Regions from separate parts of the Homo sapiens genome. Here all the other regions are reported to be linked to region 3. Evidence: microRNA targets listed by miRTarBase, many of them from high-throughput screens and not tested one by one. Region 3 holds a microRNA gene; each other region holds the end of a gene's coding sequence.
Evidence for each region. The annotated mature microRNA hsa-miR-3189-5p reads UGCCCCAUCUGUGCCCUGGGUAGGA and lies in region 3 at 3,078-3,102, shown strand. An mRNA with a match to its seed (bases 2 to 7 or 8) in the 3' UTR can be bound and repressed. Matches are read on the target gene's strand: a 7mer-m8 pairs with bases 2 to 8, a 7mer-A1 pairs with bases 2 to 7 and ends in A, and an 8mer does both.

Region 1 (3,742 bases), not on the chromosome of region 3:
ACTGAATGCTTGCTCACTCCTCAGAATGTCTTTTCCAGGATGTTGCTCTGGCTCAGTTCTGTCATTATCTACAATTTTCTTGACTTTCTATCTAAAAAGTCTTCTGCTCAGTCTGCTGATACTTCAAAATGAAGCCGTGTACCCAATCTTCTACACAAGGCCTTCTGTGGTCATCTTGTCTAGCTCAAGCAGTTCCACCTCTATAGCACATCTCATACCACCAGCATAGGTTGATTTTCATGTACCACATCTTCCTTCTATCCTTTACTGGACTGTATGTAGGTTTATTGAGAAAAGCAACCATGCCTGAGAGCCCCACACATAGAAGAGTGGCTTGATCAAGCATTTGGTCGTTTGGTAATAGCTGGTAATAACTAAACATTTGCCTGATCGATATTTCATGTGACAAAAATTGCCAGAGTAGTTTTAAGTTCTCTCATAATTCAGCTTTCCCTTCATATTCTTCAGCTATCAAGGTTACTGTGTACAAGCTGGGAATACCCTTGATCTTGAGATTAAAATGTAAATTAAGAGATTAAAATTAAGATCTTATATTTAAAATATATATATATACATATATAATTAAATTATATATACATATATACATATATAATTTAAAAATTATATATGTATAATTTAATATATAAATAAATTTAAGATGTTTTCCTCCTTTGCCAATATAGGGTTTGATGTAATCATTTCTTTGTTTTCTCAGGTCCCACCTCCATTTGCAATTGACCTCTTCTGGGAACTTCCTCAGATGGACAAGATTACCCCACCTTGCCCTTTACGTATCTGCTCTTAGGTGCTTCTTCACTTCAGTTGCTTTGCAGGAAGTGTCTAGAGGAATATGGTGGGCACAGAAGTAGCTCTGGTGACCTTGATCAAGGTGTTTTGAAATGCAGAATTCTTGAGTTCTGGAAGGGACTTTAGAGAATACCAGTGTTATTAATGACAAAGGCACTGAGGCCCAGGGAGGTGACCCGAATTATAAAGGCCAGCGCCAGAACCCAGATTTCCTAACTCTGGTGCTCTTTCCCTTTATCAGTTTGACTGTGGCCTGTTAACTGGTATATACATATATATGTCAGGCAAAGTGCTGCTGGAAGTAGAATTTGTCCAATAACAGGTCAACTTCAGAGACTATCTGATTTCCTAATGTCAGAGTAGAAGATTTTATGCTGCTGTTTACAAAAGCCCAATGTAATGCATAGGAAGTATGGCATGAACATCTTTAGGAGACTAATGGAAATATTATTGGTGTTTACCCAGTATTCCATTTTTTTCATTGTGTTCTCTATTGCTGCTCTCTCACTCCCCCATGAGGTACAGCAGAAAGGAGAACTATCCAAAACTAATTTCCTCTGACATGTAAGACGAATGATTTAGGTACGTCAAAGCAGTAGTCAAGGAGGAAAGGGATAGTCCAAAGACTTAACTGGTTCATATTGGACTGATAATCTCTTTAAATGGCTTTATGCTAGTTTGACCTCATTTGTAAAATATTTATGAGAAAGTTCTCATTTAAAATGAGATCGTTGTTTACAGTGTATGTACTAAGCAGTAAGCTATCTTCAAATGTCTAAGGTAGTAACTTTCCATAGGGCCTCCTTAGATCCCTAAGATGGCTTTTTCTCCTTGGTATTTCTGGGTCTTTCTGACATCAGCAGAGAACTGGAAAGACATAGCCAACTGCTGTTCATGTTACTCATGACTCCTTTCTCTAAAACTGCCTTCCACAATTCACTAGACCAGAAGTGGACGCAACTTAAGCTGGGATAATCACATTATCATCTGAAAATCTGGAGTTGAACAGCAAAAGAAGACAACATTTCTCAAATGCACATCTCATGGCAGCTAAGCCACATGGCTGGGATTTAAAGCCTTTAGAGCCAGCCCATGGCTTTAGCTACCTCACTATGCTGCTTCACAAACCTTGCTCCTGTGTAAAACTATATTCTCAGTGTAGGGCAGAGAGGTCTAACACCAACATAAGGTACTAGCAGTGTTTCCCGTATTGACAGGAATACTTAACTCAATAATTCTTTTCTTTTCCATTTAGTAACAGTTGTGATGACTATGTTTCTATTCTAAGTAATTCCTGTATTCTACAGCAGATACTTTGTCAGCAATACTAAGGGAAGAAACAAAGTTGAACCGTTTCTTTAATAATGCTGATCTACTTTTTGTTGAATTTGTATTTTATTTCAAGTGTCAAAGAAATCATCTTTGTTTATTTAGATGAAACCAAACACTACACATTTACACTCACACTGCTTCCAGGACCCAAGGGTTTCACAGACCATTTGCCTACCTGGTTCTTTCCTCTCCTCTTTCCAGTGATTTCTAGAATACCCTTTCAAAGGACCACATGAATATACGAACTGTAAAATTCAACTTTAATCTTTTGCGAAATGTTTTATTTACTGCTTAAAATCTAGGTGGGTGGATATATTCATGTATGCATATATTGATAGATTAATACAAACATAAGTATGTATTTAAATTTAAGGATAAGTAAAGTGAGAGTACAACAGCCCCATTCTTAGTTAAAAAGAAAAGAAAAAGACAAGAGCAAGCCACTGCCACCACAGGTACCAGCACTTAAATTTGTCAGCAGGCTGACCAAAGAGTGGCCTGTCTGTTGGCATTCATCGGACATGGCAGCTCCCTTCAGCTCTCCAGTGAGTTTCAAGTTCAGAGCACTTTCAGTCCTTGTCTTGTTTATCTATTACTGAAGGGTTTCTAGGAAGGTTTAGCAGTGCTTCAATTTTCTTAGCATCATTCTCAGGTTCATCTTCCTGTAAACTACTTTCAATTTTCTCAGGGAGGTGCTCAGTAACTTGTAGTCTGCCTTTCCTGTAATCAGATAAAAAGGATAAATCAAATACTGCTCCATTTCTTTAGTTCTTACAGATTTAAAACAAAAAGGATAGCATTTGTCTTTTCCTCCCTGCTTTGGTATAGCAATTTAGAAGCAAATACTGCTCCCTGAACTTCAAATACAGTAACTTTCTTCTCTCTCCTAACCTCACAAGCCAATTATGATTTCCACATTACCATAATGGATACCGTTGTGGTGACAGCTCTGATCCATAAGATATTCCTAGTATGCTGGGTCCTAGAGTTCTCACAGGAGTGATGTGTGGGAACTGACACACTTTGTGCTAAGGTGTGAAGGCTTGAAGTCTCGCTGTCCTCTTGCTCCCAGGGCTGGGGGAATGTAAGTACCCTGCCACTCTTAAACTCTGTGACCAGACCTTTTAGGAACTGGTCAAAGGCTATAACAATGGTAATCCAAGGTAGAGAAAAGTCAGATAGAACAAAACTATAGATTTATATTTATGAAGAGTTAAAAACTAATTTCCAAATAATAGATCAGTTCTGTTTCTAAATCAAGTATTAGTGTCTTCCTTAAGTGATTATCGGGATTAAAGTTTCTTCTCAACTCTTCACAGATTTGGTCATTTGTTCTTCTATATCTCTATAGTCAGTTTTCTACATTTTCTGCTCATTGAGGCAATTTTTTTGACTCTCAATTTGTTTGATTTTCCTGTATTATTTTCAAGCGAAGAAGTAGGCACATACAAGACACTTAAACGTTTATTAACTCTCCTTAGAAATATCTCACACACACACACACACACACACACACACACAAACACCCATACGTGTATATGCTATACAATTTTGACACTTTCATTCTGCCAAAGTATTCTTTCATTACTATGATTCAAGTTGT
Region 2 (6,514 bases), not on the chromosome of region 3:
CCCACAGGGCAGGAGGACTCCCTAGCGGTGGGGGCACTACTGGCCGGCTGGCTGGGCCGCTCGCCTTCCTCAGACACAGAAAGCCCCATCTCGCCTGCACGAAGAGTGGAGCGGCCACCCTGAGCAGAGACCCCCCACGCTGGAGCCACACTCGAGGGAGGGACATAGCTTGGCCTGAGCCTGGGTCTGGAGGTCCCAGCGCCCACCACGCCCTTAGGGACGAGGGAACAGAGCGGGACGCCTGGAGGTCGCAGTGCCCACCACATCCTTAGGGACGAGGGAACAGAGCGGGACGCCTGGAGGTCCCAGTGCCCACCACATCCTTAGGGACGAGGGAACAGAGCGGGACGCCTGGAGGTCCCAGTGCCCACCACGCCCTTAGGGACGAGGGAACAGAGTGGGATGCCTGGAGGTCTCAGAGCCCACCACGCCCTTAGGGATGAGGGAACAGACCAGGATGCCTGGAGGTCTCAGAGCCCACCACATCCTTAGGGACGAGGGAACAGAGCAGGATGCACACGTCGGGGTGGTGTGACCTGTAAGTCCTCTCCCGAAGCTTGGAGGGGCTCTGGAAGAGGCCTCACACGGAAATGCCTGGGGCTTAAGAGGCCCCTGGTGCAGCTGCTCTCCTCCCCTGCAGGCAGCCCGCACTGGGGCTGGAGGATCCAGTCACTCAAGGCGGTGGGTTCTAGCTGAAAAGGGACCTTCTGGGTCAGGCTGCAGAACTCCTCAAATGCCCATTTCCTCAGTGGTCAGAGAGGGCAGGCGGCGGGTGGATGCCTGGAGGCCAGCTGACGTGAGGCACCAAGGACATCGTGAGAGGGACAAAGTGATTCTGCCTGCAAGGGGCCCAGCGTGTCTGGCTGTGTGACCACCATAGGGGACCACCCAGTACAGCCCACCTTTCACACCAGCTCAGCCCAGGGACCCATCACGCCCTGCTGGGGAAGAGCTTTCACAGGGACTAAGGAAAACTGCCCACAGATATCGTCGGAAAAGAAACACAATGGGTCTAACAGTAAACAGATGTTCTAGGGGGAGCTGGTTCTGCGGTGGGCTCACTTTGGGTAAATTCACCGAGCTACGTGCTCACGATCTGTGCGCTTTCTTTGTGTGTATTCTTTGTGCTTCATCTACAAAGTTTACCTTAAAAAAAAAAAGTGCCTTGTGTCTACCGAAGGAGATGGGAGGGCAGAAGCTACTCTTCTCTGTCGAGTAGTGAGAGAAAACTCAACGTACTGTGGGGCAAACGCCCATCACACTCCCACCTCAGCCTCTGGGACGGTCGGCGGCACAAAGAAGCCTGCACTAGCAGCTGCTGGGATCACACAGCCAGAGGAAGATGAAAGAGAAGCGATCGATAGCAGAGGAGGTATGGGACGGGAGAAAGCAACGTGAGCATCTTTAAAGACTGAGGAAACACACACACACACACACACACACGGGCGCCAGGCTAGCCACACACACACACACACACACACACGGGCACCAGGCTAGCCAGACACACACACACACAGGCGCCAGGCTAGCCAGACACACACACACACACACACACACACACACACAGGCTAACCAGACACACACAGGCTAGCCAGACACAAACACACACACACACACACAGGCTAACCAGACACACACAGGCTAGCCAGACACACACACACGGGCACCAGGCTAGCCACGGGTCCCAGGCTAGCCAGACACACACACACACACGGGCACCAGGCTAGCCATGGTTGCCAGGCTAGCCAGACACACACACACACACGGGCGCCAGGCTAGCCACACACACACACACAGGCTAGCCAGACACACACACACACACACAGGCTAACCAGACACACACAGGCTAGCCAGACACACACACACACACACACGGGCGCCAGGCTAGCCACGGGTGCCAGGCTAGCCAGACACACACACACACACACGGGCACCAGGCTAGCCAGACACACACACACACACACACACACACACACACACACACACACACACACACACACACACACACACACACACGGGCGCCAGGCTAGCCAGAAGAGCTTCCTCTGCTAAGAATGAGCCCGAGTGCTCTTGAGAAGCCATTCCCAGACCAGGCAGGTAGGGAGGTCGACCATATAAAGTAGTAAGACTAAGACTTCCCTCTCCTCCCCGTGAATGAGGGAATGGGGGCACCCCAGCCCAGTTAGGACGGGCCAGGGCCATCTCTGGCTGAGCCGCCCCTCCCTGCCACCGCTCCACAAGAGCTCTGGAGAATTTGCGTTTCCCAGCGCCTTGTTTGAAAAATAAACACCAACCTGGCGCGGTGGCTCACGCCTGTAATCCCAGCACTTTGGGAGGCCGAGGCGGGCGGATCACTTGAGGTCAGGAGCTTAAGACCAGCCTCGATGGGGGTGAAACCAAGTCTCTACTAAAAATACAGAAATTAGCCGGGCGTGGTGGTGGGCACCTGTAATCCCAGCTACTGGGGAGGCTGAGGCAGGAGAATCGCTGGAACCCGGGAGGCAGCGGTTGCAGTGACCCGAGATCGCGCCATTGCACTCCAGCCTGGGCGACAGAGCGAGACTCCCTCTCAAAATAAATAAATAATGAAAAACAAACACGAGTTCAGCCTGGGCAACATGGTGAGACCCCGTCTCAAAACAAACAAACAAACAAACTTGCTTGCCTTCCTCAAGCAGGGCCTTCCCCTCTCATTTGGGAAGAGCCTACGATTCCGTTTTTTGCCCTTTCCTGCAAACCGGGACAACTGCGAAGGGCCCACAGCCAGGCCCGGGCCGCCGACCGCCCTTGCACAGGGTCCACAGGGGCCCAGGTCGGCGCGGGCCCGGGGGCGGCCCCACTTCTGGGAGGAGAAAGCAGCGGCGCCGCGGGCGGGAGTGCGGAGCCCCCAGCCCAGGCCCGGAGCCGCAGGGGCGCTGCCCGAGGTCCCGCCGCGCGCCGCCCACCCCCCCTGCTCACCGGGTGCTTCCGGGGCCGCGCGCTCGGGCGGCGGGGTCCGGATGGGGTTGGGGACCCCGATGGGCGGGCCCGGGCAGACGACGGCGCTCGCTGCCTCCAGCCCCGCCGCGGGACCCGAGCCCCACTTCCGCCGGCTCCGCGCGTTGCCGCGCGACGGTCCGGCCCCCAAAGGCGCCCGGGCTGCCCGCCCGCCCGCCCGACCCGAGCGTTCCGCGGCGCAGCGTGCCCGCCCAGTCCCCAGGCCCGGACCTCCCGAGCCTGCCTCCGGGCCGCCAGCCCCGCGTCAGCTCGGTTTCCTCACCTGAGAAACTGACTGGACCTGGCCTTCGTGGAACCCGGACCCCGCCTGGCTCCCAGCCTCCCCAAGTGAACAGGTCCCCAGGCCCTGCGGGATTCCAGGAAGGCCCCAGCCCCAGCCCGGTCCCGCCCCCGTCACTCTGTTGTCTGCAGAGGGGCCGCCCCCAGATCCCCAAGGCCAGTGGTGCCGGGAATTTTGAGCCCTGGTAGGACCAGCCCAGAGGCTGCCGCCAGCGATCGTCAGGAGAGAACACACAGGCGTCCAGCCCCTCCCGATCCCAGGAACAAGACCCCAGCCCAGACCTCAGCGGCAACTCCGTTTATTGAGCACCTAACTACATTGCGCAGTTAGTCCCCCACCCACAGGACCCAGACATATGAGGGACCTCTCAGGGGGGATGTCCTGTGATACAGGGGAGCCCCACCTCCCCACCCCACAGGGGTAGAGCCAGACACCGTCCCCTCCCAGCTCCCTCCCCCATACAGGCCCTTCCCTGGACCCCAGACCCACGGAGTAACCCAGACGCCTCTCCTTTCACGCCTCATTTCCCCACTTGTAAAATGGGAGGAGAGGGTTAGACCCCTATTTTTTCTCAGTTTTCCAAAGCAGCAGGAGTCTCTCCTTGTAGGAAGCTCCCCCAGACCCTCCCAGCACGGCTGCACTGGGAGGACAAACAGCATGGAGCTGTTTGTCCCTGTCTGCAGAATGAAGGCCCAGACAGCTTTCATTCATGGGGACGCGGAAGAAAAGGCATCCAGGGTTCAGCCAGCCATGGGCCTCCAGACACTCCAGGGTTGCCTCCCCCTTACCTCTGCCAGGCCCAGAGAAGCTACTGGAGGCTCAGGACTCTAGGTCCCTCTGAGGTTGGGGACATTTAGGGGCCACACCCCTGCCCCAGGCCGCCCCGCCCAGCCCAGCCCAGCCACACCCTCCCTGCCTGTCTGCCCCCGATTAGGAGGCCTGGGCAGGGGCACCTGGTGGGAGAGTCTGCCTAGCTGTGTGCCGGCAGCTGGCCCAGGATCTCAAGGCTTCAGCTGCCAGCCCCAAAGTCCAGGCACAGGGCCTGAGGGGGTGTGGGGGGCATGAATGCAGGGGCCAGGGCACTGAATGGGGACAGCAGAGAGCAGCCCTGGCTGGGGAGGCTGCAGGCCTGGCAGGGGCAGCCTGGGAAGCAGACTCAGGGCTGCTCCTGAGATCCGGAGCCTCACCAGCAGGAGAACTCGAGCCAAGCCCAGGGCCCAGCCCAGGTGGTGCTGGCATCAGGCAGGCAATGCCCATAGCCTGGAGGCTCCACCCATCCTGAGGGTTCCTCCCGCGGTGATCCAAGGGCCTGGGAGCTGGCCTCAGGCACAGGAGGGCTGCTCCAACCCAGCCTCAGGTCAGGCCAGCTCCTTGAGGCCCTGGTACACCTTGATGGAGTTGTCCTTGGCATCAGCCACCAGGAGCTGGCCCTGGGGTGCACAGGCCACTCCCAAGGGCTGCCCAAGCCCCTCTGACACCAGGCAGATGGGTGGCCCAGCCCGGGGAAACAGGGTCACCTGGCGCCTCTGCTCGTCTGCCACAATAACATTGCCCTCTGAGTTGGAGCAGATGCCCGCTGGGCAGCCGAAAGTGTGCCCCGTCCAGCCCCCCAGGGAGCCCAGGGGTTGGCGGGCACTGCCAAACAGCCTCACATCCCCAAACTCCTCACTCACAGCAAGGCCCCCATCAGGCCCTGGGCCCACCCAGCAGGGGCCCTCCAGACCCAGCATGGAGGCTGGGGCCAGGGGCTCCCAAGCAGGACCCAACGAGAAGCTGTGCACAGCCCCAGGCAAGTAGTCCGTCACCAGGAGGCGGTTGAGGGCATCCACAGCCAGCCCTCGGGGAGACAGGAAGGTGCCCACTGTCACCCAGTGGCCCCCGGGGTCCCGGGCTGTGTGCTGGAGTGCATGGACAGCCCCATGGATGGGATCGCTGACCACCACAAGCCCTGACGCTGTCACAGCCACGTCCTCTGGAACGAAGGCCCCGCTCCCCGGAGTGCGGCAGGGCAGGAGGCAGATGGGGCGTCCCTCCAGATCTAGCACGTGGACACAGGGTGCAGCCCCGGCCGTGAGGAAGAGCAGGCCATCGGGGGAGCAGTGCAGGCCCCGGGGCCCTCCCACAGCCCCTGCGGGCACCCGGATCCACCCAAGCAGCCGGAGCTGCCGGGAGCCCGTGGAGTCTCCAGGTGGGTCCAGTGTGAGGTGCAGACACCTGGAGGCCAGAGTCCAGTCAGTCCGAATCACCGTCTCAGCTTCTCTGCAGCTGGGTCACGCTTGGGGCTGCAAGAGAGAGAATAAGGCCCCACTGTGTGTGGGAATGGCAAAGTCACTCCTCCAGTTTCTTCCTATGAGGCCGGGTCCTCCTGGTCCTGAGGGTCTACCTGGCCACCAAGCCCAGCGGCCACCCTAGTGTCTAGGTGCCTGGGACTTGAGTCTGGGAGACACATGACCCGTGGAGCTCGCTGTGGGTTTTCCCCTGAGCCCCAGATGAGCTCATGGGCCTCAGACAGATAAGCAACATTTCTCAAATCCATCTGCCTGTGGAACCCCTTTCTACGGCGGGGGGGCGGTCACCCACACACAGCCCTTCTACCCGAGCCCCTAGGTCAGGGAGACTTCTGACCCCTTAGGGGCGAGGCAGCCTATTCCGAGGGCCTCCACCTGCCCCACCGAGAGAGGCCGGGGGGAGGGGTCTCTTACCTGGGCCCTGTCTCGCTGGGCCCTGCTTCGGGGCTGGGTGGCTGCAGCCTCTGTTGTTGGAAACTAGAACTGGAGGAAGTGGGAGGAGCCACTGGCAGGGACGCAGCTGGGCCGGGTGGAGGAGGGAGAGTGCAGTCTCCGGCCTTGGCCCCTGAAGCTTCTATGAAAGAAAAACCAGGTCCCCTGAGGACTCCCCATGCTGTGGTGTTCCTGCCTCCGCGCCTTGTTGCAGGCTGCGCCCTCTGCCCGGACACTATTCCCACGTCCCCTACACGGCCAGATGCCATGCAGCCCACCCCCCTCCAGGGGTCCCCCATGGTCCCCCCACAACCAGCAAGTTCATTACTCCAAGTGGCAAGGCAGCCCCAGGCTGCCACCCCCAAGCAGGGTCCTTGGGTCTGGACCACAGGCGGGTGACCTGCTGGCTGAGGCACCCTCCATGAGGCCTGTCCTGCTCCCCACGGGTGACAGCGAAGGAGGTCGTGTCTCCACACCTGGGAGACGGGTGCTGTTGCCCCCAGCAAGGCCATGCTCA
Region 3 (6,514 bases):
CGGGTGGATCATCTGAGGCCAGCAGTTCAAGATCAGCCTGGCCAACCAGGTGAAACCTCATCTCTACTAAAAATACAAAAATTAGCCAGGCGTGATGGTGCGCACCTGTAATCCCAGCTACTTGGGAGGCTGAGGCAGGAGAATCAATTGAACCTGGGAGGCGGAGGTTGCAGTGAGCCAAGATCATACCACTGCACTCCAGCCTGGGCAACAGAGCGAGAGACTGTCTCGGAAGAAAAAAAAAAAAAAAAAGGCTGGGGGCAGTGGCTCATGCCTGTAATCCCCACACTTTAGAGGCAGAGGCCGACGGATGACTTGAGGTCAAGAGTTCGAGACCTGCCTGGCCAACATGGTGAATCACCGTCTCTACTAAAAACACAAAAATTAGCCAGGTGTGGTGGCGCATGACTGTAATCCCAGCTACTCAGTAGGCTGAGGCAGGAGGCGGAGGTTGCAGTGAGCCGAGATTGTGCCACTGCACTCCAACCTGGGGGACAGAGAGAAACTCCGTCTCAAAAAAAAAAAAAAAAAGAGATTTAATCCTAGGGCCACCCAATGAGGAGATAGGAGGGAACCTCAAATCCATTTCCAGGAGGAGGAGTTTGGGGCCATATAAATGTATATATACAAATATATATATTTTTTTAAGATGGAGTCAGCCGGCCGTGGTGGCTCACGCCTCTAATCCCAGTACTTTGGGAGGCCGAGGCCAGCGGATCACAAGGTCAGGAGATTGAGACCATCCTAGCTAACACGGTGAAACCCCATCTCTACTAAAAATACAAAAAAAAATTAGCCAGGCGTGGTGGGGGGTGCTCATAGTCCCAGCTACTCAGGAGGCTGAGGCAGGAGAATAGCATGAACCTGGGAGCTGGAGCTTGCAGGTTGGAGTGCAATGGCATGATCTCAGCTCACTGCAACCTCCGCCTCCTGGGTTCAAGCGATTCTCCTGCCTCAGGCTCCCGAGCAGCTGGGATTACAGGCATGTGCCACCACGACCGGTTAATTTCTGAAATTTTTTAGTAGAGACAGGGTTTCATCATGTTGGTCAGGCTGGTCTCGAACTCCTGACCTCAGGTGATCCGCCCGCCTTGGCCTCCCAAAGTGCTGGGATTACAGGCGTGAGCCACTGCACCTGGCCAGGGGCTAGAGTTTTAATTTTTAAGGATTTTGGAGTGGGCTGAAGTGTGGAGGTCATTGCTTGGTGAAAGAGTGCAGGAGGTGAAGTCACAGACAGTAAGAAACTGTATTCTCATGCAGATTCCGTTCCTCTGTGGGGTCTTCACACTGGTGGGTGTCATTGGTTAAGGATTTCAAAAACATCTTAAGAAATTCTTCTAAAAAGTCTTATGATTCTAAGGTCGGAAATCACATCTATAGCAAATGGTCGGTATCAGGTGCTACAAGCAACTTGCGGTCACAAGGAAGTGGGTCAAAGTGCAGCCTGATTAGTGCTTAATTATAACTAAGTTTCTGTCCAGAATTCTTTTTTTTTGAGACAGAGTTTTGCTCTTGTTGATCAGGCGGAAGTGCAATGGTGAAAACTTGGCTCACTGCAACCTCCGCCCTCTGGGTTCAAGCGATTCTCTTGCTTCAGCCTCTCGAGTAGCTGGGATTACAGGCATGTAATCCCACCACCAAGCCCAGCTAATTTTGTATATTTAGTAGAGACAGGGTTTCTCCATGTTGGTCAGGCTAGTCTAGAACTCTTGACGTCAGATGATCCACGTGCCTCGGCCTCCCAAAGTGCTGGGATTACAGGCGAGAGCCACCGTGCCCGGCGCAGAATTCTTTTTTTTAGAGATGAGGTATTGCCATCTTGCCCAGACTTGTCTCGAACTCCTGGGCTCAAACAATCCACCCACCTCGGCCTCCCAAAGTGCTGAGATTACTGACATAAGCCACCATGCCTGGCCCCCAGAATTATGAATCCTGTGAGGATGGCTTCAAGGTGAGCGCTGAGCCAGACAAAAGGATGGGGTTTGGGAGCACCCTGCTTAGACTGGAAAGATAATGTTGGAGAAGACTTCCTGGAAGAGGGGCTTTTTGCGTAGAGTTTTGAAGAATGAGTAGGAGTTCTCCAGAGGAGGATGAGTAACTGCAATAACACCCAGTTTATCAAGTGCCTCCTATGTGTCTGGCCCTGTGCTTTACCCCTCATTTGACCACCTCTCCAGTGAGAGTCTCAGTCCTTTTTTTCCTGGTGAGGAAACAGGCATGGCAGAGAGGCATGACACATCAAGGTTGCCCTTCCTGGCTCCATCTAGCCCGTTCTCCTCTGCTTCCTTTGTTTTTCACCATCTTTAGCCTTTGACCCCAACCAAAAAGAGAAGAGAGGAAATCCCATGGGCATAGACAGCCACCTCTTAAACTCTTGTCTGGAATTTTTCACATAGTAACAATGTCTTTTTTTCCTCCAAAAAGACTCCCAGGCTGGAATGGTGTCCTCATATCGAGGAAGAGGATACTGAGGCCCAGAAATGTGCCCTAGCTTTACTAGGAGCGCCCCCACCTAAAGATCCTCCCCCTAAATACACCCCCAGACCCCGCCCAGCTGTGGTCATTGGAGTGTTTACTCTGCAGGCAGGGGGAGGAGGGCGGGACTGAGCAGGCGGAGACGGACAAAGTCCGGGGACTATAAAGGCCGGTCCGGCAGCATCTGGTCAGTCCCAGCTCAGAGCCGCAACCTGCACAGCCATGCCCGGGCAAGAACTCAGGACGGTGAATGGCTCTCAGATGCTCCTGGTGTTGCTGGTGCTCTCGTGGCTGCCGCATGGGGGCGCCCTGTCTCTGGCCGAGGCGAGCCGCGCAAGTTTCCCGGGACCCTCAGAGTTGCACTCCGAAGACTCCAGATTCCGAGAGTTGCGGAAACGCTACGAGGACCTGCTAACCAGGCTGCGGGCCAACCAGAGCTGGGAAGATTCGAACACCGACCTCGTCCCGGCCCCTGCAGTCCGGATACTCACGCCAGAAGGTAAGTGAAATCTTAGAGATCCCCTCCCACCCCCCAAGCAGCCCCCATATCTAATCAGGGATTCCTCATCTTGAAAAGCCCAGACCTACCTTTGAGCCTCAGTTGCCCCATCTGTGCCCTGGGTAGGAATATCCTGGATCCCCTTGGGTCTGATGGGGTAGCCGATGCCTGATTTGCACCCACAACGTGGGAGGTTATAACCTGTCCCCAAGTTGCAAATGGGGAAACTGAGGTACAGGGATGCCAGGGACCCTCCTGAATGTGCACAGCACCTGGGAAACCCGGGGACGGGGTCGGGCGTGCGGTGTGGGCATGGTCCCTGACCTGGGCTGGGGCCAGGATCCAAGAGAAACAATGGGGGTGTGGTGCATGGATAGAAGTTTGTGATGGGCAGAGCCAGCTGGAGCTGGTTCTGAATCTGATGAAATCGCTTGTCAAGGCACTGCTAAAGTCACATGCAACGAGCGACTTGTTAGGGGAGGAGGAGAGTATTTTCCCCATCTCTGTGCCCTCCATGGAGGCTCCAGGGGTGCAGGGCACTGGATGAGGTCTGGGCTGTGGTGGGACCCAGGAGGGGGCAGGCAGAGGGGCACACTCTTAGCCCGCCCTAAACCCATCTGTGCCGTGTGACTCCGGCAAACCTCTCACCCTTGCTAAGCCTAGCAACTAGGTTAAGGCACCCTCAAACCCCAGTCTCCCCAGTCTCCCTAACACTTGTACCAGCCTGAGGGGCTGTGATTCCTAGAGGCTCAGTAGTCTGGAATGTGATGGGTTTGGCACTCTTCATTTCTCGGGATTACACCTGTAATCCCAGCACTTTAGGAGGCCAAGGTGGGAGCATCGCTTTAGGCCAGAACATTGCAGCCTGGGCAGTATAGCGAGAATCCATCTCTACCAAAAATGTTTAAAAAAAATTAGCCAGACATGATGGTGTGTGCCTGTAGTCTCAGTTATTCAGGAGGCTGAGGCGGGAGGAGCACTTGAATCCAGGAGATTGAGGCTGCACTGAGCCATGAGTGCCCCACTGCACTCCAGCCTGGGTAACAGCAAGACCATAATAAATAAATAAATAAGTGAAGCAAGTAAGTTTTTGACTGCCAGAAGAAAAGCAGAGCCATGGTTGGAATCTCAGGCTGCCTGAATATCAGATATACATTAATTCCTTCAAGTATTTACTAAGCACCTATTGTGTGCCAGGCACAGTGTCAACCAAGCTAAGATTCTAAGTAGGGAATATGAATGATACACAAGGAAATAAAATAGGGTGCTTCCTATTTTAGGCAGGCTGGAAGGAAGAGGAGGAGCCAGCCATACTGAGATTCAGGAGATTCAAGGGGAGAAATGCCCTTTTTTTTTTTTTTTTTTTTTTTTTTGAGAGGGAGTCTTCCTCTGTTGCCCAGGCTGGAGTGCAGTGGCACGATCTTGGCTCACTGCAACCTCCACCGCCCCGATTCAAGCCATTCTTCTGCCTCAGCCTCCCGAGTAGCTGGGATCACAGGCGCCAGCCACCATGCCCAGCTAATTTTTGGTATTTTTAGTAGAAGCGGGCGTTTCACCATATTGGCCACATATCGGCCAGGCTGGTCTTGAACTCCTGACCTCAAGTGATCCACCTGCATCGGCCTCCCAAAGTGCTGGGATTACAGGCGTGAGCCACCGCGCCCGCACGGAGAAATGCTCTTGGTAGGGGAAATAACTTGTGCAAAGGCGCCGCCGCCGTGGTGAGATCCAGCTTGGCGTGTTAGGGGAAATGGGCACCCTCGTTCCTGGAAAACGGTAGGCCTGTGGGTGACCAGCTTCCCTATCTGTCTTCCCACAGTGCGGCTGGGATCCGGCGGCCACCTGCACCTGCGTATCTCTCGGGCCGCCCTTCCCGAGGGGCTCCCCGAGGCCTCCCGCCTTCACCGGGCTCTGTTCCGGCTGTCCCCGACGGCGTCAAGGTCGTGGGACGTGACACGACCGCTGCGGCGTCAGCTCAGCCTTGCAAGACCCCAGGCGCCCGCGCTGCACCTGCGACTGTCGCCGCCGCCGTCGCAGTCGGACCAACTGCTGGCAGAATCTTCGTCCGCACGGCCCCAGCTGGAGTTGCACTTGCGGCCGCAAGCCGCCAGGGGGCGCCGCAGAGCGCGTGCGCGCAACGGGGACCACTGTCCGCTCGGGCCCGGGCGTTGCTGCCGTCTGCACACGGTCCGCGCGTCGCTGGAAGACCTGGGCTGGGCCGATTGGGTGCTGTCGCCACGGGAGGTGCAAGTGACCATGTGCATCGGCGCGTGCCCGAGCCAGTTCCGGGCGGCAAACATGCACGCGCAGATCAAGACGAGCCTGCACCGCCTGAAGCCCGACACGGTGCCAGCGCCCTGCTGCGTGCCCGCCAGCTACAATCCCATGGTGCTCATTCAAAAGACCGACACCGGGGTGTCGCTCCAGACCTATGATGACTTGTTAGCCAAAGACTGCCACTGCATATGAGCAGTCCTGGTCCTTCCACTGTGCACCTGCGCGGAGGACGCGACCTCAGTTGTCCTGCCCTGTGGAATGGGCTCAAGGTTCCTGAGACACCCGATTCCTGCCCAAACAGCTGTATTTATATAAGTCTGTTATTTATTATTAATTTATTGGGGTGACCTTCTTGGGGACTCGGGGGCTGGTCTGATGGAACTGTGTATTTATTTAAAACTCTGGTGATAAAAATAAAGCTGTCTGAACTGTTCCCTGTGGTGTCCAGGATAAGGGAAGGTGACCTTGAGAAGATCCTCCTCTCCCTGACCTCAGTTTCTCTAGGAGACCTGGGAGGGGGTAAGTGGAAAGGCTCAAGGAATGAGTGGCAAGGTGTTCTCGGAGATGCCAAGCCATTGGAAGGTGCTTACGACACCTGTGGGCTCTAAGGGCAGCCTTGGCCATTCCTGACTCCCTGACTCTCTGTCTCTATTTCTCTATCTCCTTATTGCTGTTTCTTTTTTCTTTTTATTTTTTTTAGACGGGGTCTCACTCTGTTGCCCAGGCCGAAGTGCAGTGGCACAATCACAGCTCACTGCAGCCTCAACCACCCGGGCTCAATCGATCCTCCCACCTCAGCCACCTGAGTAGCTGGGACTACAAGTGCATGCCATCATGCCCAACTAACTTTTGTATTTTTTGTAGAGGCTGAGTTTCGCCATGTTGCCCAGGCTGGTGTTTCTGTTTTGGAAACAGCTGAGACCCCATACCTTTTTAAGTCTCAGCTTCCCTCCATCTTTCCTCATTCCTCAAAACTTCTCTCTTTGGGGTCTGAGGCAGAGGATCTGTCTCTGTCTTTGTCTCTATCACCATCCTGTTGCTCTCCCCACTTGGGAGTCACCTTTCCAAACACAGGCAGCTCAGAGCCAAGTCTATCTGCAACCAAGTGCCTTGTTTTGTGGTACTGTCCCCAACCTGAGGGGTTAGTCCCATCACCCCTCCTGTTTGTGGCACTTCCATGTTAGTGACACCTCATTCTTTCACATATAAAGAGTAGGGAGAAACAAATAAGTTGTGAAGAATATTTTCATGCACACCACATCT
Region 4 (6,514 bases), not on the chromosome of region 3:
GAACTCATCCCATTTAAGAGCCTGCACATATACCACTATGCTACAGTGACTTCCCCATGCCATATTAATAATCATGACAGCTAATGGTTGACATAACAAGAAGAGAACCTGTAATCACCCCCAGGGGCTTCCCGCAGCCTCCTTCCTATTCCTACCACTGTCTGTCTGCCTGCCTCCTCCCTATGCAGCAGCCACGTCACATGATCCCCGTTCCTTGGATGGCCTATAAGGTGGTCTTCCTCTAGTAGCTGGGCCCTGTCCCTTCCCATCTGACAAACTCTTGCTCAGCCCACGTGGCCCAGTTTAAATGTGCTCTGTGCATTCCATCATCTAGTGCTTACCACATGATCATAAATCCCACTGGTGTATGTGTGTGTCTTTCCCAAGTTGGAGTGGGAGTGCCTTTGACATGGGACTGTGTCTTTCCCTTTCGGCATCTTGTATCTTCCCCAGCATCTCTGGCTCTCCAAAGCCCCCAGTAAATGTTTGAGTAAGTGAAACATGCAGAAGACATGAAGATTGTTAAGTAACAAATACTCAGCAGAAAGGGCTGTTAATTTTAAAAAAAGAAGAAAAAGAAAAGAACATCAGATATTCTAAGACAAGTATTTGTAGAGGGAATCACTAAAAGCTTTCAGTTTTGAAAGCAAATATTTAATTTAGGCTCCCCCTTCTGTGTGCTTACAAATGGCACTAAATTCAGTATAATGCTTAATCTACATTTTGAGATTTACTATGGGACTCATGGACTTTAAGAAAAAAATGTAGTTCATTGTAAATGCCTACATTTCACAGTCGTTCGTTTCTTTTAACACACACAATTGGATTGACAAAGGTAATGACTTCCTAGCTAGCCATATTCAAAAGAAATGTCAAAAATTTAAATTTATAAAGCTCTCTGTGAAATGTTGTGATGCCCCAATCAAATGACCCTCCTGATCTTGCCCGGCACCCTTTCCCTCTTGGCTGCTGGCGCCTTCCTGTCTCATTGCCAAGGACAAGCCACGTCTGCATGTCTCTATCCCACCCCTCACCACTTAGAATTCTTGAAACCTCTGGGGAGGCTGACCAAGAAGGACAGAGGACCCTATATTTGGGCTTCTGGAACCTAAGTGCCCCAGGGCTCAGAGCTCCTATTAGTGTTATTTCACATTTACTACAAGTTTAAAAAAAAAAACACACAACGGTGATGATGACGGTGATTTTTGTGTCTTGTCCATGAATCACACAATATTATTCTAGGGGGAAACGTACCCTGATTTCAAACAACTCATCTAAAAGTACAGATTTTGGAACATGACCTACATGTTTACAGTGCCACATGAGACTACACTCAGACTCATGGACTTTTTTCCTTTTTCAATTACTAACTGCTTTAGTCCTCTAAACGTGGATTCTTCTTTTTTTTTTTTTTTTAAACCAATACTGGGTCTAACTCTGTGGCCCAAGCTGGAGTGCAGTGGCACACTCATAGCTCACTGTAACCTCTAACTCCTGATCTCAAGTGATCCTTCCTCCTTGGCCTCTCAAGTAGCTAGGACTACAGAAACATGCCACCATGCCTGGCTTATTTATTATTTATTTATTTATTTATTTATTTATTTATTTATTTATTTATTTATTTATGGTAGAGATGAGGTTTCACTATGTTTCCCAGGCTGGTCTCCAACTCTTGGACTCAAGTGATCCTCCCACCTCAGCCTTCCAAAGTGCCGGGATTACAGGTGCCTGGCTCTAAACATGGATTCGTTAAAAGCTTGCCCTATTTCTTTTTTTTTTTTTTATTATACTTTAAGTTTTAGGGTACATGTGCACATTGTGCAGGTTAGTTACATATGTATACATGTGCCATGCTGGTGCGCTGCACCCACTAACTCGTCATAAACATGGTTTGTGTTTGCAATAGTGCACTCCTCATTTTATGCTGACTCTGATGGGAATGTAGGACTCAATTGCTGAAGTTGTCATTACAGCAGACTTTCCTGGAGGCCTTTGTTGTTTGTCAGGTTGCCTTCTCCAAAAGGGGACAGTTTGCCCATGTGGGATGTCCTGCCCCAAGCATTTCTAACTGCTCTTCCATCTCTGTCCTCCCTCTGCAGGCTGGCCTTGGGTGACCCTCTCTGTCCTGGGATTCCTGTACTGCTACTCCCACGTGGGCATTGCCTGGGCCCAGACCTACGCCACGGACTAATGCTGTTGGGCCCAGGCCAGTCCTTGTTGCTGGCCTCCAAGGCAAATAGTGCTTCACCCTGACCTCTCACTCCAGGACAGCCTCTAAGGGATTTGATCTGCTCATCTTCAGTTGAATGCCCTCACTCCAAGACTGGATGCTGGATCTCATAGAAAATTCACAGCCAGACAATCTTCTAATCTGGAGTCTTTGAGATCTTCTACCCCAACTCATCATTTTCCTATTGAGGAAACGGGTCCAGGGCAGTCGTGTGTCTTACCCAGCTACACAGGGTGACATTTTGGTCTAGAACCTAGTCTCATGAGCCCTTTGCATTCTTTCCCCTTAAGCAAGAATAGAATGTAGTGGAAATTTATTGATTGAGACACAGAAATCCTGATTAGTGATAGGCCTGTCTTCTGGGCAATATTTCTAAAATATTTGAGTGACATTGATGTTTAAGTGACCTCCTTCATCACATCCTGCAGTATCTCCAGAAGCAGCACTAGGGTTTGAGTTTCATGCTTCAGCCCCTCTGTAGGAATGAGACCAAGCCACAGCTGTCTTTTGAATTACGTAGTCGAAGAAGACGGTAGCAGCCCTGTAGCATTCTAAGGCATCTATACCCAAGGAGTCCTGTGATCTGAGCTTCAGCAGGGTGATCTACATTTGGGTGCTTGTTTCTGAGATTTGCAGAGAAGTATAACATGGTAGTTCCTCTACCTTACAGTTAATCGTTTCTTAATAAAGAAGCAGAATTTAGAAACCACAGGATAGTGTACCCACAGATGGGTGTTATCAAGGCCAGTCATGAGGATGGTGTCCTGGAGTCTTGTCCACCCTCTCCATACAAGTCTCAAAAGTCATCCTCCTACTCAGTGATTCACGTTTAGTGGTTTATATTATTAAGGTTTGATTCAAACAGAGCCTTTTCTGTCCTGTAGATAATCTACATGTTTGTAGAATTATTTTGAATATGTTTGAGGAAAATGTTTAAAATCTAAATATACTCACATAACTTGATTATTCACTCCTCTGAAAAGATGCTGGATAGGCTACCAAAGTTCCCAAGTGGTAGATAATTCAGAAGACTTGTTTGAATTTGGATTTTTTTTTTTTTTGGAGTGGGGAAGGGTATAAAGGAGGCTTAAAATTTGAATCCATAATATATCTAATTACAGGAGAATTTACAACATCTCAAGTACGTAAATTAAGTTGTCATTGAGTGAAAGGTTCACTTGGACCTAGTGCTGCCTCCTGTTTATTACATAGCATGGCCCTTATGTCTTGAGTTGAGGTTATCATCTCAATGAGGCTTTAGCTCCTAGAGTACAGGACCATTTTGTTGATTGTCTTTCTTCATAGCTTCTCTGCTTGGCAAAGAGATGGGAGGGGGCCAGATACTGACTACCTGGGGTAGGCACATTATGTGTTAAAGCAAGACAGAGGCCAGAGAGGGGCAGGTAGACCTGCATAGCAGCAGCCTCAGCAGCTGTCTTGGTAAAGGAGAGAGAGAGACATGGGGCCAGTAATTCCGGGGTGCTCAGAAGTTTTAGGAGGGGATGAGCCTCAGGGAGGAGTGAGCACCTAAATGAACGCAGTAAACCTTCATGGACCAACAGTGATTGAGGATTTGTGGGCAGCCAGAGGGAGTCTGACTGAAGTTTACTTGGAAAGAAAGGGCTTGCTAAGAAAAAAGGGAGTAAAAATGATGATAGGGAAGTGTCTAATGTATGTGCACATATAAGTAATACAAAAGTTTTGAGCTCTTCCAAGTATACCATTTATATACAAACAAATAGGTTTATTCATTCATTAAACTACTTTGGAAGCGTCAGTGGATATATTTGAAAGTGGTAATCCTGAATCTCTTTTAAACTATTATATGATTCATAATGGTTCTCAGGAATTAATAAATGATTACTGTGTTTAGCTCTGTATTTGAGGCTGATTAATTAATATGTGGATTATCCAGGACCATTGTTTTGCTTAACCTCTTCCTACTCCCCACTTGTAATATGAAAATGATAATGCTTCTCTCCTCATGCATATTCACTAAAATCTTGTAGTTACTCTGAATGGTGGTGCCTGGGCGCACAGAGGAGTTCAGGCAATGACACTGGACATGTCATCAGCCCTGGGCAACTTCAGGCGCAGTGTTGGGAAAAGAATAGACAAGGTCCCAAGGTCAATTCCAGCGCCTGGATCCTCTGATCCCAGCCTCGCTCTGCAGGCAAGCCCAAGAGCTCCAAGCACAATCGCCAAGATGCTACCCAAGGAGGGAAGCAAGATACCTGAAGGACACCCAAACCTCAGTCATTCTAATTCTTGGGACCACACAAGAAGACTGAAAGGTATTATTTTTTCAAATTAATTTGAAGTGTCAGCAGAAAACATTTTGTTTCATTAAAGACAGCAGGCCTCAAGAAAAAATAAATCAATGAACAAATAATTGTATTATAATCTATATACTGGGAGAATAGCAGTTTAGGTAGGGGAGGGGGTGGCTTCTCCTGACAGAAAGTGAGACTGCTCACTTGCTTATTTAGAATAATAATATAACCATTGACTAAACATAGTAAATTAACCGTAATATAATGAGTTTGGTTTTTAGCAGATGTATCAGAATATATCCATACAATAGGGTTCCCTTCAGTGTGGACAACATGAGAAGCCAAAGTATGATACTACTGGCCTCAGCACATTTTGAGAAAGCCTCTCTGAGGCTTTCTCAGGGAAATGGTTTTATTTTAAAACAAAAAACCCTCTTTTTAAAATCATTGAACTCCATTTGGCACCCAAAACATGGCATTCATTACTTAGCTCTATATTACTCGTCCTTTTGACTAATTACAAGAATCATATTCACAGAGATGTTTTGCAACATTGAAGAGATCAGACAGAATGCTTTAGGTTGTGTGTGGTGGCTCACACCTGTAATCCCAGCACTTTTGGGAGGCTGAGGCAGATGGATCACTTGAGGTCAGGAGTTTGAGACCAGCCTGGGCAACAGAGTGAGACCCTGTCTCAAGAAAAAAAAAAAAAAGAATAATAAGTTATTAGTGATAATTTTGAAACATCAATAATTTGGAATTTTAAACAATATCACCCTTATTATTTTTATAATGCTTTTGTGCAATTTGATTAAATCATGGGTAAGGAAACATTAAAAATACTGTACCCCTACTGTGATCCTATAAGATCAAGTAGACGCTTGTAGGTCAGATTCCTCATCTCCTAATTAAGTTATACTGTCTATAATAAGAGAAGTGCCATGTTTGTAATGTGGTCCACTGGATGGTAAATAAGGACTCAGGTTGGCAGTATTGTGGAGCCTTGCCATGAGCAGGAAGCAACACCGATTAAAATAGCAAAACTGAAACCATGCTGGTGTATGGGACTATTTCGATTAGAGGCAAGCTAACTTAATAGCTTCTGAGACTATCAATGAAGTGTAAAGCACAGATCAGAGCTCATATTGTAGACACTGAGTCATTCAAAAAAGATTGTTATATTCTTCATACTACGTTTTAAAAGGCAGGAGGGAAGCATTAATATATTTTATACAAATTTCAATCCAAAGTTTTCAAAATAAAAAAGTGTACATCTAAGTGGGGTGGGAGGTGTCAGCTTTGGGTATCTCAGATCCGTGTGTCATACAGTTTTCCGTGATCCCAGGCACTGAAGTCAACATCTGTGCCCTTGTACAGCAGCTGCAGCTGTACTTTAAGATTGTACAGCTGCATACCTTCATGTCCATTCTCTCACTATTTGGTACTTTGACACACAATCTTGGTGAATCTTGGACTTTAAGTTCTCAAAAAACTATAAGTGCTGTCCAAATAAGAGCTTCCCAAACTCTTGAAGAGAAAATACCATCCTTGTTCTGTCATCTTAGGTCAGAACAGCCAATTCAGTGACCTAAAAGTAATGTAAGGAAAGGCAAAAGCAAGTATCATGTATAAAATAGTTTATTACCATAATAAATAAAACTTTTTTTTTTTACAAATATCATTTGTGCTTGTTTAAAAATGTTGAGAAGGGAATATCATCAATGGAAGGGCCTGCACGTTCCTCTTAACATTCCCAAGCCACAGATATACAGTGGTGTTCTTGGCAGCATCCTCAGCTGACCACAAAAATAGTATCAGCTCATTTACACTTTTGTTTATTCATGCTCATTTGGACAAAGTGACAGATGCAAAGGAAAAAGAAAACCCAATAAAGGATTTGGCAGGACTCAATGGAAAGAGTATTAATATAAGGAGAAGCCCCAGAATGATGAACTGCTCATAAGTAGAAGTGTCCTTGAGGTGTCGGTGAAATGTCGGATGTGGACAGTCT
Region 5 (3,000 bases), not on the chromosome of region 3:
GGGATGGACATGGCTCAAAGGGTTCAGTGTGAGAGGAGGACCCAAAGGGTCTTTCACTCTTTTTTTTTTTTTGAGACGTAGTCTCGCTCTGTCGCCCAGGCTGGAGTGCGGTGGCACGATCTCGGCTCACTGCAAGCTCCGCCTCCTGGGTTCACGCCATTCTCCTGCCTCAGCCTCCCGAGTAGCTGGGACTACAGGCGCCCGGCACCACGCCCGGCTAATTTTTTGTATTTTTAGTAGAGACGGGGTTTCACCGTGTTAGCCAGGATGGTCTGGATCTCCTGACCTCGTGATCCGCCCGTCTCGGCCTCCCAAAGTGCAGGGATTACAGGCGTGAGCCACCGCGCCCGGCCAAACCTCTTTCACTCTTGCTCCTCCTGCCCCGCCCCCACCTCCCTCTGGTAGCCTTTCCCACTACCGCAGCCGTCGGCCCCTCACTTGACTTCCGTGGTGAGAAAGGGCAGGAACTGGACGTTGTCCACACTCCGGGTCATTCGCATGTGCCTGAGGTCCGAGCTGTAATGGGGCCCCGAAGGGAGGGGTGGGGGTGGGAAGGGAGAAGCAGAGTGCTAGAGGGGGATGCCCAATGCCTGTCATCCTTTCCGGACCACCGCAGACCCCGCCCCCTCTCCCCCCCGCCAGCTATCCTGCCTTCTCCTTCAGGCCTAGTGACCAGCCTCGCCCTTGTACCCCGGTCCCCTCGACCCGATCCCACTTTGATCCCGGTTCCGGACGAGCCAGGTGCTGTGGCCACGTCTCTGTCCCCTCTCTCTCCTTTCCTGACTGCCTAGTCCTCCCCAACCCAGCCCGGCCGCACTCTCACAGGCCGGCGGAGAACATGCCAAGGGTGAAGACCACGCATGCTCCGTAAATGAGCGAGTCCAGAAAGCCGCCCGCCTCCATTACGACTAGAGTCGGATCCCGCGCCCAGCGCCCGCCGCGAGCCTGCGGTTGCCGGGACCTACTGCAGCCCAGACCTGCGGCTCTGGAGCCCCGCCCCGCGCACTCGGCTCCGCCCCCGCACGCTCGGGCCGTCCCTCCGGAAACTGCGCCGAAGCCCCACCCTCCCTCCGACGCCGAACCGGAACTCGCGCCCCTCTCCTCCGAGCGCCTTCCCAGTACCCTGGTCCAGACCTCTTCCATGTCCCGGTCAGTCCCCTTCCTAGGGCTCCGCGGGTGTGTCCCCGATACCTGCCGCTGCTCACACTCTGCCTACCCCTTGGATCATCTAGACGCCCCCAGTCTCAACGCTCGTGTTCCCACAGGCCTGTGCGCCTTCGGCGGTGGACCTCCAAACAAAAGCTTGCTAGTTTAACAAGACTTCAGCACGCTTTCCATCCAGAGCTCCACATCAGAACCTCAGTTGCCCAGGGTTTGGGAAGTTTTTTTCTGGAGTGTGCTGCCGAAGCTTTTTCTCAAAATAACACATTACCAGGAATCACCAAGCCTTCCTCTTTTGCCCTCCCTCTCGGGTCAACTTTACATGACGTGGCCAATCCACTGACGCCTCTATCACTGACCCCCGGTCCAACCCACTTGTTACTGGGAACTTTCCCTCCCAGCCTCCCACACGTCTCTGCTAGTGTGGCTGTGGGGCGGGGCCGCATGCCTCAGCTGGCGTTCCCAGCTTCCCTGACTCACCGAAACAGCGTGAGTACCTGAATGGTAGTATGCCAAAGCCCTGCGGTGACGGAGTGGGAGTGGGGTAGAGGTCGGATAGGAAGAACTTCCAGAGTGGAGTGCAGCTCAGAACCCGAGAGACAGCTGTCAGGAGCACTCCGGTCCTGGACAGCCCTCAGAGGAGGAAACATCCCACCCTTTTGGCCTCGTGAGGGGCACACATTCTTTGGAGAGAAAGAAATTCAAACCCAGTTGCTACTGTTGTAGCACAGAGAGCCTCGCACTTAGCAGGGACTCAATGGTCATATGTTTTAATATGGAGTGGCAGAAAAGCATGTCCGAAAAAACACATTGCTTTATTTTGAGACAAAGAACATTGTATAAAAAAACTCCAGTTGTAGAAATCAGGACAGACACACAGCAACTTATATACAGATACTATACACGTGGGCCCTGCCCTTTAGGCTACACTCTAGGCAGAATGTACACATGGGCACTGCCCTTACAGCTACACTCTAAGAACAGGTTGGCACAGCCCCCCTGCTGGCACAGCTCTGGGGAGTGCTGCCCCAGGATGGGAGAGAATGCAGTACCTGGCTACAAACTTCTCTGTGGCAGCTCCACAGATGAGGTCTTGCTGGGAGATGCTGGGTCAGCCCAAGCATGCTGCCTCTCCTGTACCTGGCTTCCAAGCAAGAAACTGTTTCTTGCTTTTCCTTCAGTCAGTTCATCTGGGCATCCTGGCTCTCTCCTGGAGGGGGCATCTTTGACAAGCTTTGCCCATCCACGTGGCCCCTTCCAGCTCAGCTCCCACTGTGCCTTAAGGGACCATGCCTGCACAGCTTGTTTCTTTGGCTTAAAGGCAGGAATGGTGGGAAAGGACTGTCTCCACTTCTTTCTCCATCCCTCCGAGGTGAAGGTGGGGATGGCACTGTCGGGCTGGTTGGCCTCCTTCCGGTTGAAAACCTTAATACTGACCCGTTTTGAGGCTGCTAGGTGATAGCTTATGCCTGTGGTGGGAGTGGTTCCCAGGGCTGGGGGCTCTGAAAGTGGCCCCAAGACAGGTTTGGAGTGCCTGTCCCTCTCTTCAGCCTGTCCCTCTTTAAGGCCAGGTGTGGCATACACCTTCACGGGGTTTGCAGCAGCAGAAGTGGAAGGAGCAGCACAGTCCAGGCAAGTGGGAAGAGGCGTGGGGCAGCACTGTGACCGATGCTATGTAGAACCCGCACCTCTGGGTCATCTGCAAGGTGAGAGGGCAAAGGCCACCAGTGTGAGTGGCTCCACTATTTGTACTGGCTCTCAGCCCAACAGGATTCCCTCAGCCTCAGCCTGGTAAAGGAGCCACCTCCTGTACCCAACCTCTTCAAGCAGACCCCTTCC

Region 1: the mRNA of TIMMDC1 is a reported target of hsa-miR-3189-5p. Seed matches in the 3' UTR shown: 7mer-m8 at 2,537-2,543.
Region 2: the mRNA of NHLRC4 is a reported target of hsa-miR-3189-5p. Seed matches in the 3' UTR shown: 7mer-A1 at 4,147-4,153.
Region 4: miRTarBase lists HHAT as a target of hsa-miR-3189-5p. Seed matches in the 3' UTR shown: 7mer-m8 at 3,690-3,696.
Region 5: the mRNA of EFNA1 is a reported target of hsa-miR-3189-5p. Seed matches in the 3' UTR shown: 7mer-A1 at 2,186-2,192.

What each region holds. Positions count from the first base shown.
Region 1 is chr3:119,522,723-119,526,464 of GRCh38, reverse strand. TIMMDC1 (translocase of inner mitochondrial membrane domain containing 1) reads right to left here. Exons shown (of 7, transcript NM_016589.4): 7 at 1,375-2,859. The coding sequence ends at 2,709. It overlaps CD80 (CD80 molecule), which reads left to right. Exons shown (of 7, transcript NM_005191.4): 7 at 716-2,172. Among named protein-coding and RNA genes, the nearest start is that of TIMMDC1, 26 kb to the right of the region's middle.
Region 2 is chr16:566,541-573,054 of GRCh38, reverse strand. NHLRC4 (NHL repeat containing 4) reads right to left here and starts at 6,050. Exons shown (of 2, transcript NM_001301159.2): 1 at 5,980-6,050; 2 at 3,560-5,584. The coding sequence starts at 5,007. The coding sequence ends at 4,636. It overlaps PIGQ (phosphatidylinositol glycan anchor biosynthesis class Q), which reads right to left and starts at 3,087. Exons shown (of 11, transcript NM_004204.5): 1 at 2,959-3,087. RefSeq lists enhancers at 1,246-2,140, 5,726-5,775, 5,724-6,514 and silencers at 2,771-2,990, 3,061-3,220.
Region 3 is chr19:18,383,493-18,390,006 of GRCh38, forward strand. MIR3189 (microRNA 3189) reads left to right here and starts at 3,070; the gene lies at 3,070-3,142. GDF15 (growth differentiation factor 15) reads left to right here and starts at 2,666. Exons shown (of 2, transcript NM_004864.4): 1 at 2,666-2,974; 2 at 4,794-5,684. The coding sequence starts at 2,698. The coding sequence ends at 5,443. RefSeq lists enhancers at 2,210-3,032, 2,621-2,790.
Region 4 is chr1:210,672,189-210,678,702 of GRCh38, forward strand. It overlaps HHAT (hedgehog acyltransferase), which reads left to right. Exons shown (of 12, transcript NM_018194.6): 12 at 2,100-4,102. The coding sequence ends at 2,191. It overlaps KCNH1 (potassium voltage-gated channel subfamily H member 1), which reads right to left. Exons shown (of 11, transcript NM_172362.3): 11 at 6,126-6,514. Among named protein-coding and RNA genes, the nearest start is that of HHAT, 350 kb to the left of the region's middle.
Region 5 is chr1:155,133,815-155,136,814 of GRCh38, reverse strand. It overlaps EFNA1 (ephrin A1), which reads right to left. Exons shown (of 5, transcript NM_004428.3): 5 at 1,916-2,860. The coding sequence ends at 2,748. It overlaps SLC50A1 (solute carrier family 50 member 1), which reads right to left and starts at 963. Exons shown (of 6, transcript NM_018845.4): 1 at 824-963; 2 at 439-516. The coding sequence starts at 903. RefSeq lists a silencer at 923-1,162 and an enhancer at 1,433-1,522.